Linked DNA regions of Homo sapiens. The protein of the gene in region 2 purifies or fractionates together with the protein of the main gene of each other region. This does not show direct contact. Each region holds a gene or a part of one and is shown on either strand. Other genes may lie near its edges.

Region 1 (2,399 bases), on a different chromosome or scaffold from region 2:
CAGAAGAGCAGCCAGGCATGGTGGCTCACACTTGTAATCCCAGCACTTTGGGAGGCCGAGGCGGGTGGATCACGAGGTCAGGAGTTCAAGACCAGCTAGGACAACACAGTGAAACCCCATCTCCATTAAAAATACAAAAATCAGCTGGGCGTGGTGGCAGGCGCCTGTAATCCCAGCTACTCGGAAGGCTGAGGTGGGAGAATTGCTTAAACCCAGAGAGGCAGAGGTTGCAGGGAGCCAAGATCGTGCCACTGCACTCCAGCCTAGGCAGCAGAGCTAGACTCCGTCTCAAAGAAAAAAAAGAGCACTGAGAACCAGCTGTAAATGGTGATCTACTCTTGCTAAAACGATTCCTTAAGCTCAACAGAGTCAATCTTGTTTCAAATGCATTTAGTGGCAGAAAAACAAACTAATTTTCTTTCATTATTTGACTGGACTCAATGCATTCAAGTCATGAAAGTTGATGATTCCAAATTCAGAATAAAATAACACATGACACAGATAGTTTAGCATTTTATCCTCATTTTTAACCTACAAAGTGTAATGTTCTCATAAAGTATTTTAATAAATATATTAAGGCTTAAGGTAATTACTGGTTTGAGTGGCGGGTGGTTTGCTTTCTAGCACACTAGTTTACATTCGGAATCTTAAAAATGAAAACATTTGCCATCTTACAGTGAGTGATACATCACATTGGCTTGCCCCAGTTTTTGTGTTCTTTTTTTTTTTTTCACTATTCAACATGTCTTCGTATTATCTTCCTTCCTCTCGTATCTGATAGACAAAGAATGATATAAAATTTTGGTTGAAAAAAGCCAGTTGATTGGGATGACTAGAAATGTTAACTTTTTCAGTAAAAAGCTTTCACCGAATCACTGGGCAGTTAGTAATGCAGCTTACAAATAAATAAAGCTGAGGCGAGAGGTTTAAACAGCAAGAAAAGCTGCAGAGCATATTGAGGAAGGGAAGCAGTGAAATGGTGGTTTTAATACATCCCAAACTGGAAGCAAGAACCCTAACACAAAGAGGATTGGAATACTCTACCATCTGTAAGGAAGTAGCTAGCTACAAGCCACCTCACACAAAACACCCACTAAGGCCTTTCACCGAGATCCTCTTGTTATATTCTCATTATGAATCCCCAGCAGGTGCACCTCAATAAATAGGTGTGGAGGATACTGCTGAGGACCTCTAGGTCACCTAAGCAGAAACTGCTGCCATCAAAGCAGACTGCCACCATGCATCCGCGGAGAACTCCCTGCCTACAAATGAAACTGGTAGCGCTCATCCCCTGTGCCCGAGGACCGTCCACAACGGAGGTGCTTTCTTGCAAGAGAAGCAGCAAATGATGACAGCGTGTCCAGTAGGAAGGGCTTCCCAACAGTCACATCCCTCCCAAGACCCTCTAGATGGACTCCAGAATCCAGTCGCTGCTGGAGAGGGAGGAGACAGGCAGTGACAAGTCCCGAGGAGGGCCTCGGTCCCTCCTGTCGTGCAGGGAGTTCTGCTCCTGGAAATATTCCTCCTCTTCATCGAAGAAGCCGTTCTCCAGAGCGTAAGTGCAGTCTGGGCTGGAGGCTGCCTGGCATGCCCCCTTGTACTCCTGAATCGACTCGTAGAGGCTGTACAGTTGGCAGAGCAAGGACATGTCCAGCTGGCGGAGACCAACCTTGAGGGAAGGGGTGGGGAGGTAAAAAACGAGAAGTCAGCACTTGAGTTTAATTTCAGTGGAACACTCAGCCGGCGATCTGCGCCTGCCAGCACATTCCTTCCACACGGCGCATGATTCAGAGCATCACTCGGATGCTTTGGATTTCCAGTTTTGAGAACACCTTAATTGTGTTATGCCCATACCTCAGACGTTACTCATTGAGTCCAGTGAGGATCGCATCTGTGGGGCAACCAGGGCAGCCTGCAGAATTTACCCTGGCGCTCCTGAGTGTGCCTGATGAAGCAACAGCACTGCATATTCTAGTGGCCCCACCTGCTTTCACTTTGGACGCCAAGAAACGAGTGTGTCACTTCCTCTCCCAATCAGACTCGGAGAAGACCCACATTGGCCTTCCCTGCTACTGCGTTAGGATCTGACTGATGCAGTCATTCTCAACTCCCAGGGGCAACAGAATGCCCTTTGCCAGTGACAGCAGCTGGCCAACGTGACATCCCCCTGGAGCACCCACCTCTGTGCAGTTCAGTGGTCAGAGGTTACACTGCCTCCCTCTCCTCCAGGCAGGGTCAGTCTTATCCCAGATGGTTCTGGGATCCCTCCCCAGAGTAACTGACTGAATATGAGGAAGCCCTGGAAGATGAAGGGCTCTACAGTTCCTCCTGAAAACTAGCCCCACAAAAACAAGCAGCAAAAGAACACAGAACATTTATAAAAGTCATATACTTGTTTA
Region 2 (3,011 bases):
TCAAGCGATCCTCCTGCCTTAACTTTCTGAGTAACTAGGACTACAGGAATACACCACCTATAGTCGGGTTTTCTAAACACTGCAGGTATGTAAGTATATACTGGTCAATTAAAAAAATTTTTTTTCCTTGTAGAGACCAGGTCTTGACATGCTGCCCTGGTTGGTCTCCAATTCCTGGCCTCAAGCATTCCTCCCACTTTGGCCTCCCAAAGTGCTAGGATTACAGGCATGAGCCACCACGCCTGGCCTGAGAACTTGCTTTATTTTAGCCAAAATTATTTTATCACTTCTTTCCCTTCTCACAGGTTCTAGCTCTTATCTTCTTGTACCCCTTCCCTGCCGCAATATATTATCTTACGCAAAGCAAGTAAACTTTCAGTTTCCTATTCCCATTACTCTATTTAGCAAACCTAGGACCTTCCTTAGGACCCAGCATCCTCACAAGGCAGGGTGGGGTTGTAAATAGCCCCCAGTTTTTGCTGTGTCATAAATTATTTTATTCCTTGTTACATTAGCAAAACAGACATTTCAATGTGAATCCTCCCCGTTGATAAGCTTAAATTAAGAATATAAAGTACAACACTGTAAAACCTTTGCCCTGATGTTAAAAGCCTTTCAGAAGGTTTTTGAAATCCCTATTTCCCACTTGATCTGGGTTCCTCTTCACCCTGTGAGACACTCCAGCTGCATTGAACTGCCAGTGTTCCCAATCAGCTGTGCTCTGTTAAACATCCACATTTTAGAAAAGCATGCTTAATTTTTCACTAAATGATAATTATTTCCCCAGCATTTAATGTATTACTCATTCTCTCCACATCAAGGACCTTGTAAACAAATTCAGAGCATTATCTGTAGGTTCTTTTAAGATCATCTTTAAATAATTTTCAAGGTGGGATGCGGGGAGTGTCAGCAAGGCTTCTCTCATTAAAAAACCTTAAAATCTCCATTTGTCCCTGTCAAAGCCTGAATTGGAAGCAGGGTCAGCATTAGGGTGAGACAAGAGATGCAGGGTTGTGCAAGTGCAGGGTTGTTAAAAAGGAAAAAAATTGAAATTGCTTAAGAAAGTCATTGCTTTTGAGGGGTAATAGCAGGTGTACTTCCCTAAGTACAATAGCAAATCTTTCAAAGAAAATTTCTATCCTATTTTTCCTTGAAAATAACCATATTGAATACAGTTATAGAACTGTATTTTATTTATTTGTATGTGCTACAATTTGGTGCATGCAGCAACCACAGTTCCTTAAATTTTTGGCCATTGTTTTCAGGACTCAAAATAGCTCAGCATTCCATTCTATAAGGCCCATGTTTCTTTCCCATGGTACAGTATGAGTACTTTTTAAAGTAGGTGAACATAAAATAAAAGTTTGCTAGTTGTAGTGCATATGAACAAAATAACCACATGGGTTTTATGGCACATGTTCTAAAAAGATAAAGATATAATGGAGAGATATCTCATTCAAACAGGTTAACATTATAAACAGTGCAAGTGAGGGCCATAGAAGCAAAGTAACATAGTAAAATTAACAAATATAAAAACCTAAGCTGAAAGAGGAGGTATGGAGATTTTTTAAATAGTCCTGAAAGATAATAGAGATTGCTCATAATTTGAAGTAGACATAATTCAGGATTTGAAATAAATCATCTAAAATTTTAAACATGTCATATTGTTTAAATCATTCTCTGTCCTATAGGAATGACGGTAATAACTTGACTATGTACTTTGTAGTGTCCTGAAAATAGTATGCTCAGTTAAGTTTATAAATTGCAAAATAACCATCTCTTTAAAGTGGAACAGCATTCATCAGGGAATTGTTCACTTATGAAGAGGTCATCCAGACCTGGAGACAAGCTACTTTTTTGGTGAATAGAATATATTGCCATTGCTACTATTTATCCTCCTTGTTTTCAGGAATGCTTCACTACTTATTCTCATTATGATAAACTCTATCTCAGGCTTTTAGGTATCATTTAAAACCCACTTGTGTGGGGAGGTTCTATCACTCTCCAAATAACTTTGCAGGGCCCAAGGCTATAAATATGAATATATTTATACAAACCTATTTTGTTATAATAGGGCCTTGGGCCTACTATACAAACCTATTTTGTTTAAGGCTATAAATATGAATGTATTTATATAAACCTGTTTTGTTATAATAGAGCCCAAGGCCCTATTATAACAAAATAGGTATGTTATAAAACTATTATAACAAAATAGGTATGTCATAGAACTATTATAACAAAATAGGTTTGTATAAATATATTACAGGACAATTATTTACCATTATTACAGGAAAATTATTTCTCATCTGTATATCCAATAATTACACAAAATGGTTGTGTTTTGAAGTTGGAGAACAACCACATTCTAAAAAGGCACAGAGCAAAAAAGAAAATAAGCTCATATTTTACTATACGAAAAAGGTAAACAAAGAAGTGGTTGAAAAATCCATGTTCTATTTAAAGTCCTCTCATTCCAGAATTATAGAATATAATTGATTTTATGTGATTATCAAGTATAAGCTCTTGGAAATTTTATGATGTAAAAATAGAGGCAAAGCTGTACTCATTAATAAAATAAAACATTTGATTAGCATATATTGATAAAATAAAATATTCATGATTGTAGTTTATTTTTTGTTGAATTTATTAATAATCTTTATATATATTTATATATGTATGGCTTTGAGCAAAGACAAAAGAAATACTCTAACTCATCCCTGATCATACAGTTGTTGTAAGAATCAGCTATTCTATTATCTTTCCAGCAGCAGAAAGACCAATGAATAATACATTTCTTTCTGTACAGATTAAAACTCCATACATACGGGCTTCACTATGTACAGAGAAAAGAGGTCACTTTTCAACTAGCAATGGACCTTTATATTACAGGAATGTGAGTCATTTTTTTTTCTTAATCTAAGTATATATACATTCATACATATATGTATATAATTTACCCTGTACCTTTTTATTAGTTTAATATATAAACCTTAGTTTTTTTGTCCATTCTA

The links.
Region 1: the proteins of HCN1 (region 2) and FAM89A purify together in Homo sapiens (co-immunoprecipitation; one large-scale study listed by IntAct). This does not show direct contact.

The regions. Positions count from the first base shown.
Region 1 is NC_000001.11:231,018,458-231,020,856, forward strand, and holds the end of FAM89A (protein FAM89A), read right to left. Parts: intron 1,670-2,399; coding exon 1,406-1,669; 3' UTR 501-1,405; downstream 1-500.
Region 2 is NC_000005.10:45,256,627-45,259,637, forward strand, and holds part of HCN1 (potassium/sodium hyperpolarization-activated cyclic nucleotide-gated channel 1), read right to left. Parts: 3' UTR 1-3,011. UniProt on the Homo sapiens protein: Hyperpolarization-activated ion channel that are permeable to sodium and potassium ions. Displays lower selectivity for K(+) over Na(+) ions.